2 linked regions of the Homo sapiens genome follow. The protein of the gene in region 1 purifies or fractionates together with the protein of each later gene. This does not show direct contact. Each region holds a gene or a part of one and is shown in the gene's direction. Other genes may lie near its edges.

The links. The genes of interacting proteins can lie anywhere in the genome.
Region 2: the proteins of TRMT6 (region 1) and KLHL22 purify together in Homo sapiens (co-immunoprecipitation; 3 studies listed by BioGRID and IntAct, with this or other methods). This does not show direct contact.

The regions. Positions count from the first base shown.
Region 1 is NC_000020.11:5,947,405-5,954,855, reverse strand, and holds the start of TRMT6 (tRNA (adenine(58)-N(1))-methyltransferase non-catalytic subunit TRM6), read left to right. Parts: upstream 1-4,322; 5' UTR 4,323-4,450; coding exon 4,451-4,578; intron 4,579-7,451. Other genes in the region: DNA helicase MCM8, read right to left, coding at 166-248, 2,328-2,432, 2,693-2,840. UniProt on the Homo sapiens protein: Substrate-binding subunit of tRNA (adenine-N(1)-)-methyltransferase, which catalyzes the formation of N(1)-methyladenine at position 58 (m1A58) in initiator methionyl-tRNA.
Region 2 is NC_000022.11:20,464,598-20,471,900, reverse strand, and holds part of KLHL22 (kelch-like protein 22), read left to right. Parts: intron 1-385; coding exon 386-551; intron 552-6,324; coding exon 6,325-7,043; intron 7,044-7,303. UniProt on the Homo sapiens protein: Substrate-specific adapter of a BCR (BTB-CUL3-RBX1) E3 ubiquitin ligase complex required for chromosome alignment and localization of PLK1 at kinetochores.

The DNA.
Region 1 (7,451 bases):
GGCACAGAGAAGTAATTAATCAAAGTCCATACTGCAGGTAAGTGGCAGAACTGAGGTCTGAACCAAGGAAGTCTGACTCCAGTGCCTACGATCATAATCACAAGTACCTCGAATACATTGGTAAGATGGCACATGACTGGTAGCTTTGCTGTAGAGGAATCTTACCTTGTCATACAAATCAATATGCCTTGTGAAAAATTTTTCAAATGCTTGAATCTTCTCAATCAAAGGAGAGCTATCGCTGTAAACTAATCCAACAAATATGGCATTAGCACAAATAATCACACAGGTACATGCACATTTTTCATGAGACAAAAGCAGCACTATATACATGGTAGATGATTTTTTTCTAATTGCTTTGTATTTTGATTACATTCATATAAGAACTAGTATAGAATGTAAACTTAAGATTCTAAAACAAATTTAGGTTTGCATAATGTGAAATGCAGACAGAAACTCTCTCTCTCTAAAAGCCCCACTATCTGGGAAACTTTGTTTTGCATCTTTGACACCTAATAGGACATGTTAGTTCAGATAATTTAGACAATAAGCTTAAACTAAAAATTATAATAAAGCCAAAGCCAGACACATAAACTAAGCTCTTACTCTGACAGAGCTGAAGACAATCACAATCACAGTCTTTCCTGAGATCAGGAGACAGACCAACACTTGACCCTGGTGGCAAAACTGAAAAGCCTTTTTTTTTTTAACACTCTAAAGTTCTACATTTTCAAATATGTCTCTCACAGAAGAACAGTACAATAAAGTAGTTTGGAAGCACAGATGGTGAAGGCTAAGGCACCTCTTGAACTCCATCTTTAGGACTGTCCAAAGATCACTTATAGTGTTCTGAGCTATCTGCTAGGGGAGCAATGGGAGTGCTGGTGGCTAATACATCCTAAAGGAACAAAAGATCATTCATGAAACAGATTCTATTGATGGAAAAAAACGAACAGATTTCCAATAAAGAAAACATTTGTAAAGTACTCTATTCATTCACAAAATGACTACTGCATGCCTGGTATGGGGCAGGGAGGGTCCTGGACCTCAAACGTCTAGTTTTCCTAAAAAAAAAAAGTATGCGGCTGGGTGCGGTGGCTCACGTCTGGAATCCTAGCACTTTGGGAGGCCGAGGCGGGCGGATAACGAGGTCAGGAGATCAAGACCATCCTAGCTAACACGGTGAAACCCCGTCTCTACTAAAAACAGAAAAAATTAGCCGGGCGTGGTGGCGGGTGCCTGTAGTCCCAGCTACTCGGGAGGCTGAGGCAGGAGAATGGCGTGAACCTGGGAGGCAGAGCTTGCAGTGAGCCAAGATCGCGCCACTGCACTTCAGCCTGGGCAACAGAGCAAGACTCCATCTCAAAAAAAAATAAAAAGTATGCACACACACACACACACACACACACACACACACCCCTCATGAGACATAAGAAACAAATGGGTATTTTAACAGCACAAAAAAGACAGTTCCCTGCACCTATACAGACTGATGTAGGTTAATTGGTATTCCTAATTATCAAAGGGAGATTCCTTACCTGTGTTTCTACACAAAGCTGTATTTGTTATTGTCCCTTGATTTCAGGCCCACTGTTCTACTTCCTGCTCTGCGATGCTATAATTCAGATCTGTACCCTACATGTCTCAGATTCTCTTTAAATTCTGCCAATTGAAGGCACTTTAGAGACGGGAAGGTGGCAGGAAGAGAAAGGAATTTATTCTTGTTTCCAACTCTTTTCAGCATCTCTGCAGCTGCAGAAGATAACGATAGTGCTAGCCTCCAGTTCCAAGCACCACTGAGTCATGCCCCCTCAGTTACCAGTGGCAACCAGCTTCATTTGCCTTAGTGGTCTAAGCACAGCTCTGTAAGGTAGCCTTCAGAAGTCCAAGCATAGCTTTGTAGGGTGCCCCTCAAAAGTCAAAATAACAGCTATGCTGTGACCTCTCCAACCTTTGAATTCCCACATTCTGGTAACCTCAGAACTTCTTTTAGTCTCTTAGCCATAAGGATGGTTGCTGCTTCCTGAATTACTACTTTCTGGGGAGTTACCTCAATATTTCCTTTCTGCTCTTTCAGTCTTCCATTTTTGTATCCAATTTCTTGTATTAAGTCCCCTTTTTGAAATACCTAGTATGGTTTCTGCTTTCCTGACTGATATAAAGTCTAAAATGCTTTTGAAACATAAACATCATTTAATTGTTTGGGTGAACTAAGATTAAAGCAGGTATATGTTAGTAAATGAATTACAGTAATACAAGATGTAGCATCCAAAGACAAGTTAAGAAAATATGATTTATGGTGCTTTTTTGTACTTTTTAAACCCTACCTTCAGAGAAATAAAGCTTCCAGCCTTTATATGGTATGAATCGATCCAATGTTGACTGCATTGACTGTGGGGTCTTTGTTGAAAGCAAAAACTGTGGGGTTTGTTCTGAAAAAAATAAAATACTAGGTTAGTAGAAACAGAGTGAACATTTTTCCAATATGCTTCTCTTTCCAAATGAGACTCTCATTAATAGAGTATCCAAATTAGGGGTTTTAGTAAAAATCTGGGACATCAATGTTCAAATACTTACTAAGGAGTAGCATGAAATAAAAGACAAACTGAAGTATGAGATAAACCGCCTTGTATGATAGACGTGAATTGCTTCCTTAAGTGAAAAAAATTGAACAATCATTGACCTCACCTACCAGAAGTACGTTTTCCTGTGGTTTTACTCAGATCAGGTCTGTGTTCTCTTTCTCTCCATTTTCCTGAGAAGTTCCCACCACCTCTTCCCCTTTTCCAGCTTTGAAATCTTCCTCGTCCAAATCCTCTGCCTCTATACTCTCCATTCATCTCTCCTAAAAGATAGATATTAAAAAGGTCTTCACCAAAACTGTAAGGAAAATAGTGCTCTTAAAAATGTATTAATAAAAAGGGAAAAATTAATGTATTCTAGGTTCAAGAGTAGCAAACAGGCTTGCAAAGTTGTACAGCTATGATACAAGACCCAAATATTCTGCAGTTAAGTTTCTAATCTCTATCGCTTTTTAAGGTATACCATAATAGTTTAATAACTATTAAATATGGTTTACGTATACTAGACGCTCACAGGTTAAAAATAAGGACAGGTACTGTACCTGTTTACAAGTCCCCATTACAGAAATGAAAATAGGACAGGTAATTAACTCTATGAAAACTTATTTGCAGTATTTGAGACTTCTTATTATAGGGCAGGACAGGATGAACATAATTCTGGCCTGTGAGACACTAGGGATACATCATCATAGCTTCTTACATACAGTCAATCCTGCAGTGTCACATCCATTTTTTGTGCAGTTTTTCTGTAAATCCAAAACTGTTCTTATAAAATACACGTCTACTTAAAAATGATTCATATCCTAAGTATACAAGTAAATAAAGATATACCTGTACGCTGCAGTGCAATTCATTATCAAATACTCTACCCAAATCCTTACTTAAAAGGGGTTTAGTTAATAAAACAAGATAGTAACTAGAAAGTTCACGATTTAACGGCATGACAGGGCTCCAATAATTAGGCATTACACATTATGAAACTGATGCTCAAAGAAATTAAGCAAACCGATCAAGATCAAAGTTGTTTGTCGACAGTACAGAGATAAAACTTTCAGCCTCCCAAGCTGAGGCGCTCCTTCAACAACGCTGCGTGCCATACCCTTCTCAAACGAGACAATATGCTGAGAACAGTAACAAATTCAAAAAAACGTTAAGAAGTAGGACTGGAGAAAGAGTAAAAAGAAACAGTTGGGTACCTGTGCTTCTTCAAATACTACTTTATTTACATCTCCTAAGGCTAAAGTTCTTACTTGCTTGGGACAGAGGTCCCAAAGCTCTCCTAGTTCACAACTGGGCCGGCTCCAGGATACGCGCAGATCTGTCCGGCCGGATTCTCCCTCCCTCCCTCCCGTAGAGAAGCACCACGGGGCTAAGAGTCTCCGGGATCTTAGCTCCTCAGGCGACTCCTGCCAAGTCCGCAGTTCTCTTCAGCCGCAGCTTTCCTGTCGTCCCCGCGCGGTGCTGAACCCCATCTGTCTCAACGGCTCGGGAAACTCAGTTTCCCCACCGCAGCTTCCAGAAGGTGTCTGTAGCGCACAGCGCCGCAAAAATGCCTCAAGCGAAAATCAGGTCTTCCCCTAAATTCTTTTTTGGCGCTTCAGTGATCCAACTTCCGCTCAAAGAAGCGGCAAGACGAGAGGGGCGGGGCGGAGTGCAGCCAATCAAGGAGTTTGGCCAGACGGAAGCCGAGAGGCTTCCGGAAGCGGTCTTGAGGTCTGGGCCGGAAAGCGGAAGCGGCGTGCAACACGTGGGGGCGGTGCCGGTCGGAGGGCTCCTAGTGCGCCAGGTTGTGGGAAGTGAGGCTGGCGGTGGCGACAACCGAGGAGGAGGGGCGGGACGCCGTGGAGCACGGCGACCGGCTGAGCGTCATGGAGGGCTCAGGGGAGCAGCCGGGCCCACAACCACAGCATCCCGGAGACCACCGCATCCGCGACGGCGACTTCGTGGTGCTGAAACGTGAAGATGTGTTTAAAGCAGTACAAGTCCAGCGGAGAAAGTAAGTCAGATCGCTGATTTTAGGGGTCTCCCGCCCCCACCTTGTAGATACCCCCTCCCTCCAGGTTTCTCCACAGAATTCTTCCGCCAGGGTGCCATTCTTGGCTCTCTCGGTCCCCATTCCCCGCCCTCGTTGTCTCCTCGGGTCTTTCTGTCACAGAAGGCTTTTCCACCAGGATCCCGTCTTCGAACCTCATAATCTCCCTTAACCCTCCTGTTTTTCCCGGAGCCCCCTCCATGATTTCATATCTGGCCGTCCACCTTCAGCATCCTTTTCAGTCTTTCCACAGAGTTCCTTCCCCAGAATTCCATTCTTGGCCCTAGGGTGCCAATGCCTCCCTCTCCACACCCTAATCACCTGTCCTGAAGTTCTTTCCCTAGGACCTTGGGATCTTCACTGTCTTTCCAGAGACACCCCCTCCTTTCTTCACTTTAGGATCTCATCCTTGTCTCCAGAGTCTCCTTCAGGTTCCCCCTTTTTTTCCACCATAGATCCTCCTTCTTCCCTAATCCCCCAGTCAGGATCTATCCCACAAAAAATGAAACGTCTCCTACCTAGTCTGGCTTTCTATCCTCTTCTCTACCCAAGCAGGATACACAGAATAGATGAAGGAGACAATTCACCACAGAGTGTGGAATCACTTTGAGTTTCCCTCGTTTTACTCACCAAAGGATTCAACGCTGGGAAAATTGCTAAAAAGCAATTTGCTCAAGGCCTCAGAACTCCAAATTAGGTTTGGTTTGTGCACCTGCTGGCTAGTATCGCTCTGTTTTATAGAAGTAAAGAAGTGGGATTTTGATAACTTTCTGGAAGGGCTGGTGAGGTTGTTAAGTCCTAAGAGCTTATTAATGGTGAAAATTTATTGGGATATTTGGATTAATTTATCTGAGAAATACAACCACAGTGTTTTTGTTTTTGAGACGGAGTCTTGCTTTGTCACCCAGGCTTTAGGGCAGTAGTGCAATCTCGGCTCATTGCAGCCTCTGCCTCCGAGGTTCAAGCGATTCTCCTGCCTCAGCCTCCCTAGTGGCTGGGACTCTGGCACCATCACACTCGGCTAATCTTTTTTTTTTTTTTTTGTATTTTTAGTAGAGACGGGGTTTCACCATGTTGGCCAGGCTGATCTCGAACTCCTGACCTCAGGTGATCCACCCGCCTCGGCCTCCCAAAGTGCTGGGATTACAGGTGTGAGCCACCGCACCTGGCCACAGTTTCTTTTGAGCTAGGTTATTGTATTACTTTTGACAGAGATAAGTTGAATGCAATGTCAGGAGAACAGCTTTCTGCAGACTGGGAAGTATGAGATTTGGAATTTCTGATAAGTACTTACTTCAGATGAATTCTTTTACTCCTGGTTTAAGCAAACTGTTGACTGGTATTTAAGGTGAAGCAAGCATCATAAAATAGTCAAGAAACAAGTCTCCAGAGCACTAAGCTGGTGATAACCAAGCTTTTTGCACAAGCACTAATTTAGTAAAGATAAAAAGTTTCTTTTATGAGGGGTATGTTTCTTTTAGTCCGGAAATGTAATACCTGCACCAACCTTTAACCATTTTTAAATTCTTCTTTTTTTTCTTTTTTAAACTAATTAATTTTTTTTGCAGAGACAGAGTTTCACTATGTTGTCTAGGCTAGTCTCCAATTCCTGGGCTCAAGTAATTCCGGCCACCTCAGCCTCCCAAAGTGCTGGGATTACAGGCATGAACAGTAGTTGACCTTCCCCTTTTGTGGTGCCAAAAGGGTTGGAGACCACTGCCCTAAACATTTATTTGGAAATACTTTTCAACAGGCCCTCTTCTTCGCAGAAGTCATAGTGGCAGTTTCCATTTTATTTAGGAAATGACTCTCTCAGCTCAGCTGCATCCCAGGTCAGACTCCCTCATCACCCTTGGGGCTACACTCATCTGATTGGGCAAAAAACAGTCCAGGCTCTCTGAGAAGTAGACTCTGCAAATCCTACTCCTTCCCAGTAAAGATGTGGCCTCCTTATCCCTCTAACGGGGCCCCACATTCCCGACTGGGGCAGTGACCTGTCAAACCAGCCAGTTTTAAGTGACACGCATCATCCCCTCTGCATATCACATAGGCTCTCAGAGAGGTAAACCCACCCATCTCAGATCCAGTGTTTTTGTTTGGTTTGTCTGTTTGTTTGTTTTGTGAGACGGGATCTCACTCGGTCCCCCAGGCTAGAGTGTAGTGGCGTGAACTTGGCTCACTGCAACCACTGCCTCTTGGGCTCAAGCAATCTTCCACCTCAGCCTCCTCAGTAACTAATTTGTGTACTTTTTGTAGAGAAACTCCTGAATTCAAGTGACCCTCCTGCTTCAGCCTCCCAAGTAGCTGGGACTACAGGTGTGTGCCACTACACCTGGCTAATTTTTTTATTTTTTGTAGAGACGGAGTTTTTCCCCGTCAGCCAGGCTGGTCTCAAACTCCTGGACTCAAGTGACCCACCTGGCCTCCCACAGTTCTGGGATTACAAGTGTGACCCACCACACCTGGCCAGATCCAGTGTTTCAAAGCACCTAGGTGATTAAAGGATGAGGATAGGGGGTGCACATCTGGGCTGAGCTGAATTGCAACATCTGAGGAGGTTTACATTAGCAAATATTTTGAGTGTCTGTTACATTCTGTTGTATGTAAGTATCTAGGGACCCAGCAAATAACAAGAATTGGCCATATCTGAATCACTTACGATCATACAGGATTTCCCTCAGATGGTTTGAGTAAGCTTTAATGAAGATGTGACTCAAAAGTGTGGCCGATTTAGGGAACCAATAAAGGTGACACACCCAGAGACCAGCAATGGTGGTAAGCCTCTGACACGGGAGCGTGGGTGATGTGGCAGTATATTCTGTCGTAATCAGCTTCCT
Region 2 (7,303 bases), on another chromosome or scaffold:
ATGACTTTTATTAGTTTCCCATTAATTAATTCATTGCTTTGAAATGTGCTCTGGAGTTGCTACTGCTCCGATCCAGGAACTGCACTGATGAACACAGCAGAAGCAAGCTGCTTGTGGCCTCACCTCCCGAAGCTCACATGGGACTCCTTGGGCCCATGAAAAGGGAAACAGGACAATTTCCAGGATGGCTGCCCAGACTTCGTCAGGATCCTTTTGTGGGATGGCTCATGCATGCACACAGTTCACTCAGAGCACAGAGTGGGTCAGCCCACTACCAGGGCCCTGCCACCAGCGCCAGGTTCTTCTCTGAATGCTGTCACTCTTGGCAACATGGGCTTAAGTCCCTGTTGGTATAACTCCATTTTCTTGTGTCTTCACTTTGCAGAGGAATGTTTGCTGGGGGATTGAAGGAGATGGAACAGGAAGAGGTCCTGATCCACGGTGTGTCCTACAATGCTATGTGCCAAATCCTACATTTCATATACACCTCCGAGCTGGAGCTCAGCCTGAGCAATGTACAAGAGACACTGGTGGCTGCCTGCCAGCTTCAGGTGAGGCATGTCTCATCTAGCAAGGCAGACCCACACCCAGGTGGGGTTCCCTGAGATGCCCATGATGCCTGCCGGGCACTAGCATTGGCTTGAAGATGGGTCAGGAATGTGAGGAGACCAAGCAGTGACGAAGGCCATGAAGTGGGGAAGACTCTGGAGTTGTTCCTGGAGCTCAAGCAGAGCCGCTCTAGACACCCCAGGCCTCTGCCTTTGCCCTCTTCTCTATTGCTGGTTGTTTCCCCACTGTCTGAGTCTCCCTGTCATTGAAAGCATCCTGCACATAAGCAGGTAGGCTGACCCGAGGCTGCATGTGGACGTCCTGTGTGCTCTGGGGTCTGGCAATGGGGAGCATCCACCAGCATTGCTGCCAGGGCCCTTCCTGCCTGTCCCCTCACTGGGCCACTTCAGTCTCTTGAAAACTTATGTGTTTTGTTACTGAACTTTATCTATCTATTTGTCTGTCCATCCATCCATCCATCCATGCATGCACGCATCCATCCATCCATCCATGCATGCATGCATCCATCCATCCATCCATCCATCCATCCATCCATCCATCCATCTATCCATCCATCCATGCATGCATCCATCCATGGTGGCAGGCATCCATCCATCCATCCATCCATCCATGCATGCATCCATCCATCCATCCATCCATCCATCCATCCACCCATCCATCCATCCACTCATTCAATTTATTGGAGACAAGCTCTCTCTCTCTTGCCCAGGCTGGAGTGCAGTGGCACGATCACAGCTCACTGCAGCCTCAACCTCCTGGGCTCCAGCAATCCTTCTGCCTCAGCCTCCCAAATAGCTAGGACCTATAGGCATGTGCCACTACACCTGGCTAATTTTTAAATTATTTTTATAGAGATAGAGGCTTGCTTTGTTGCTTAGGCTAGTCTTGAACCCCTGGCCTCAAGTGATCCACCTCAGCCTTCCAAAGTGTTGCGATTACAGGTGTGAGCCACTGCGCCTGGCCTATTTTTTTTTTTTTTTTAAAGACAGGGTCTCACTCTGTTACCCAGGCTGTAATGCAATGGCATGATCATAGTTCACTGTAGCCTCCACCTCCTAGGCTCAAGTGGTCCTCCCGCCTCAGCCTTCTGAGTAGCTGGGACTAAAGATGCGTGCCATTGTGCCTAGCTGATATTATATATATATATATTTTTTTATAGGAATGGGGCCTTGTTATGTTGCCCAGGCTGGTCTCAAGCTCCTGGCCTCAGGTGATACTCCCACCTTGGCTTCCCAAAGTTCTGGGATTACAGGTGTGAGCCTCTGTACCCAACCTGTTATTGAACTTTAAGTACTTGTTTTCCTGCAGAATTCAAAAAGTTTTCTGAGGCTTTGACAGTGTGACTTATGTTTTGGATGATTATTCTCAGTGGTGTGGGTGCAGTTACACGGGACTGGGCCTGCAGGTGCCTTTGAGCTATCAGGCAGAGGCCTGATAGGAGTTGACAGTCACCTCTTCCCACATTTCTTAAAAGTGAAACAAAATGCTATGCTAAGTTCATCATTCTGACCTTTCTTCCCATGAGAGCAGGTTTGACGCAATTAAAAAAAAACAACTCAAGTCACAGGAAAACCAACCTGTTCGGGGGCATGTGGAGGTGCCACCCCATGTGACAGGGCCCTGGCAGCCTCCCTGTGCCCTGTTCTCAGATTGGTGGATAGGACCTGGATGCTGGGTGGGTTGATCTGAGATGACTGACTTGTCTCACCATACCTGCATGGTGAGTAGATGGAGTTGGCTTTTACAACAAAAGAATTTCCCCCTGTTCTTTTATTTAGAGATCTCTTCTGTCCCCACATCCCTGTCATTGTTGCTTTGGGAACCCTCATCCAATTCTCCACCCTGGCAGCAGTTAACTCCTGATTCAGCTGCCTCTGAAACATCTCCCCCAGCATGGCTCAGGTCCAGCTGTCCTATCTCCTCCTCCACACCTGCCACTCTCCCGGAGCTCCCCTGTCAGTCCCCCTGCTCTGTGTGTCCTGTGACCATCCTGCCAGTTCCCTGGGCTCAACCTCAGTGGCTCCTTGAGCCCGTCCACCTTCTTAATTCCCTGCGTCCATGTGAGGACAGGTCATCCTTCTCGGTATTGCTTGTAGCCATCTCTGTTCTGTGTTTCCATTTCCTTCCCTTTTGCCTGGCCTCCATCTGTATGTTTCTGCCATTTCTTTCTTCTCCCTGCAGTGATCACACACACTGAAACCAGATCATCTTTCTAACATCACTTTCCCTCTCTCACCAGTCAGCTTGGAGGCCTGCAGTCTCTCTCTGTTGGTTTGGCCAGTGCTCCCGACAGCCCTGGGTCATCTCCCCCAGTGCCTCAGAGGTCATCTCAGAGGCAGCAGCCTATCTTAGTTTTTTAACATATCAGGCTTCTGGGCCAGGCTTGGAGGTTCATGCCTGTAATCCCAGCACTTTTGGAGGCCAAGGTGAGAGGATTGCTTGAGGCCAGGAGTTTGAGATCAGCCTGGGCAACAAAGCGAGACCTCTACAGAAGCACTTTAAAAATAGCCGGGCATGGTGGCATGCACCTGTAGTTCCAGCTACTCGGGAGGCTGAGGTGGGAGAATCACTTGAGCCCAGGAGGTGGAGGCTTCAGTAAGCTGTGATCACCACACCACTACATGCCAGCTTATCTCAAAACAAAAAACAAACAAACAAAAAAAAACAGGCTTCTTCACAATATTGTTTTATAGCAGGTTTTACTTGGCATAACCATGTCAAGTCCATAGGCCTGTAGAATCATGTATGTTCACATAGCTAGTGACTTTTGGAGGCTTCCCCCATGTGTTGTGCCCTGCAGTAGGCCTGGGACCAGATTCTTCACGGTGTCCCCAGAGGCCTGAGTCTGATTCCCAGTAACACTGTCCTATTGGGTTACCCCAAGCAAATGCAGTCCCTTCTGTGAGCCTCGTATGGGGCTTTTGCACATCCTGAGCCCAGGCTGGTTCCTCTGTGAGATTTCACTGAACAGAAGGCCCACTGCTCTAAAAATAGGACTGAAAGGAGAGTCAGCAGGGTCCTCTCAAGGAGCTGCTGCTGCCCAGGCTTCTTCAGGGCTGTTTGTGCTCACATTCTGCCCAAAACTTGGTCTTCAGGACCCTGGCCCATGACAAACCAGAATTTTAGGAAAACCTAGTAGTTTGGGAAGAAGTGGCAAAGCAGAAGACTGGCAAAAAGGGAAAAAAGAAGGTCAAGTGAAGCTGGTCAGGGCCTAGCAAAGCACCATGGGGATACCTCATGTAGGGCACATACCTGCCTGACATTTGGTAGGTCTCATCCAGCTCTTAGCATGTCACCTTGCAAGCAATATTAGATGTCTTTTGAATTTTAAAAAAGTTATAGTTAGTGTTTATTGATAAGCTTTAAATACCTTGGCCGGGCGCCGTGGCTCACGCCTGTAATCCCAGCACTTTGGGAGGCCTAGGCGGGCAGATCACGAGGTCAGGAGATCGAGACCATCCTGGCTAACACGATGAAACCCCGTCTCTACTAAAAATACAAAAAATTAGCCGGGCGTGGTGGCGGGCGTCTGTTGTCCCAGCTACTTGGGAGGCTGAGGTGGGAGAATGGCGTGAACCCGGGAGGCGGAGCTTGCAGTGAGCCGAGATCGTGCCACTGCACTCCAGCCTGGGCAACAGAGTGAGACCCCATCTCAAAATAATAAATAAATAAATACATAAATACCAGCAGAATTATTCCATGTGTAATGGTTAATTTATTGATGATCCTGGATAAGCCAGGTATTCCCATTTTTAGAGAAACTGATTTATTGCATTGAACACATGGCTGGAGTTGGTAGCAAGGGGGTTCCCACAAGAGGGGACCCCACAGCATCCTGAAATGGAGCCGTTTTGGGATTCCAAAGAAAGAAGCATCAAACACCAGGGTGATCTGGCCAGAGCGTTTATTAGGGGAACTTATGTATAGAGTGATGTAGCATGTCCTCAAGACAGACAAGGGAAAAGAGAGGCTTTACCCAGGCTTGCCCACAGAGTGGGTTAGTGTATGGAGTTTCTATGAGGGTTTAAGGAATTTGTCTCAGGGCCAGAACCAGTTTTTCCTTCAGTGTTTTGGGTAACAACCTTGATGCCTTTATCAGTGCCTGGGAATGTTCAAGGGCCTGGTTTGGGTTCAAGCCTGCTGGGAGAACCTGCAGCTGTCTGGGTCACAGAGAGGTCAAGGTACTCGTCATTTTCAATCTGAACATGGAAAGAAAGGAGGTGGGCACTGGGGGGCCCCACTGAAACTCTAAAATCCTGCTTTCCTAAATAATTTATCAACACCTGGTTTGTTCTCCCAGGCAGTTTTCCCTAGGGCCCTTCCCTTTGTCTCCTATTCTCCCAAGATTTGGTTGTCTGTTCACAGGGTGGCCTTTAACAGCCTGCTGGTTGTGGCCTTGTTCCCACCTCCCTCCAGTGTCATTCTCTCTCTTGCCGTCCTTTCAAACCACTAGTGCTTCCCCATGGCTGGGAAGGGTTGATATGGCCACCTGGGAGCCCCTGCACTTACTGGAGTCAAGTGGGTCTTGACCCAGCTGGGAACCTCAAGAACCCTGAGTCAGGGATCACTTGAGCCCAGAAGCTTGAGACTTCGGTGAGCTATGATCTTGCCATGGCACTGCAGCCTGGGCAACAGAGCAAGACCCTGTCTCAAATTTTAAAAAGAAAAAAGAAAAATAATTCTAAATCAGGTTCCTGGGTGGGTATTGGTTAGGTGTCTGAGAGGCTCTGAGCACTTCTAGGGAACCAGGGTGGATGTTCTGGCGGGGGAAAAAGCCAGGTTTGTTTCTGGTCCCAGCGCTTTTGGAGAGGCAGGCTCTTCCAGAGAATCCTAGGGTAGGGATGGGGATGGTCTTAGGTCCTTTCCAAACCACAGATATATGACACAGTGACCATTTGTGCTGCTTCCTGCTTTTCTGGAGAGCCAGTACTTCTTTTTTTTTTTTTTTTTTTTTTTTTAGACGGAGTCTCGCTCTGTCACCCAGGTTGGAGTGCAATGGCGCGATCTCGGCTCACTGCAACCTCCGCCTCCTGGGTTCCAGCGATTCTCCTGCCTCAGCCTCCTGAGTAGCTGGGATTACAGGCGCGCGCCACCACGCCCAGCTAATTTTTGTATTTCTAGTAGAGACGGTGTTTCACCATGTTGGTCAGGCTGGTCTCAAACTCCTGACCTCGTGATACACCCACCTTGTCCTCCCAAAGTGCTGGGATTATAGGCATGAGCCACCGCACCCGGCCGAGCCAGTACTTTTGATCTAAGAGGGAACTGACATATATCAAGGGTCCACTCCTATGTGCTCTCTCATTTTCATCATGTTCCTCTTCACTTTAATGATCCCCGTTTTATAGATGAGGAGACTGAGGCTTAGAGAGGTTAAAAACATTCTGTACGGGAGGCTGAGGCAGGAGAATCATTTCAACCCGGGAGGGGGAGGTGTTAGTGAGCCGAGATTCTGCCACTGCACTCCATTCTGGGCAACAAGAGCGAAACTTTGTCTCAAAGAAAAGCAAAACAAAACCAAAAAAAAACATGCTGTATATCCTGTCACCCAGTATGTTTCCAAACCAGGACTTAAACCTAGTCTGCAGTAAGCCCCAGTCTCCAGTGTGTCAGAAAAGGTCGGGGACAATTAAGGAGGACTTCCCTTCTGCTTTGCCTGGCCCACAACAGCCCGTATTTCTGCCATCATTCTCTCTCCCACCCCCAGATGCTGTTCACCAGCCCAGGCTTGAATGGGTGTCATTCTCTCTGCAGATCCCAGAAATTATCCATTTCTGCTGTGATTTCCTCATGTCCTGGGTGGACGAAGAGAACATTCTCGATGTCTACCGGCTGGCAGAGCTGTTTGACTTGAGCCGCCTGACTGAGCAACTGGACACCTATATCCTCAAAAACTTTGTGGCCTTCTCTCGGACTGACAAGTACCGCCAGCTTCCATTGGAGAAGGTCTACTCCCTCCTCAGCAGCAATCGCCTGGAGGTCTCCTGCGAGACCGAGGTATATGAGGGGGCCCTTCTCTACCATTATAGCCTGGAGCAGGTGCAGGCTGACCAGATCTCGCTGCACGAGCCCCCAAAGCTCCTTGAGACAGTGCGGTTTCCGCTGATGGAAGCTGAGGTCCTGCAGCGGCTGCATGACAAGCTGGACCCCAGCCCTTTGAGGGACACAGTGGCCAGCGCCCTCATGTACCACCGGAACGAGAGCCTACAGCCCAGCCTGCAGAGCCCGCAAACGGAGCTGCGGTCGGACTTCCAGTGCGTTGTGGGCTTCGGGGGCATTCACTCCACGCCGTCCACTGTCCTCAGCGACCAGGCCAAGTATCTAAACCCCTTACTGGGAGAGTGGAAGCACTTCACTGCCTCCCTGGCCCCCCGCATGTCCAACCAGGGCATCGCGGTGCTCAACAACTTCGTATACTTGATTGGAGGGGACAACAATGTCCAAGGATTTCGAGCAGAGTCCCGATGCTGGAGGTAGGACAGGGTGCTAGCTGGTCCCTTTGTCTTCAGGTGATGAGAGGGTGTGGAAGTCATGGGCTGAGAGAGCTGGTCAGGTTCCCCCCAGCCTTTCACATGAGCATCACTTGCCATTGTGGAATGAAGTCTAGGTGAATTCAGAGAAGGTGGACAGCAGTGAGATAAGAGAAGGGGACATGTGGATCGCCTTCTTTCCTGCATGTCCCCTACTCCTCAGAAACCCACTTACCCTGGACCCTTGCTCAGCCTCTTTGGGG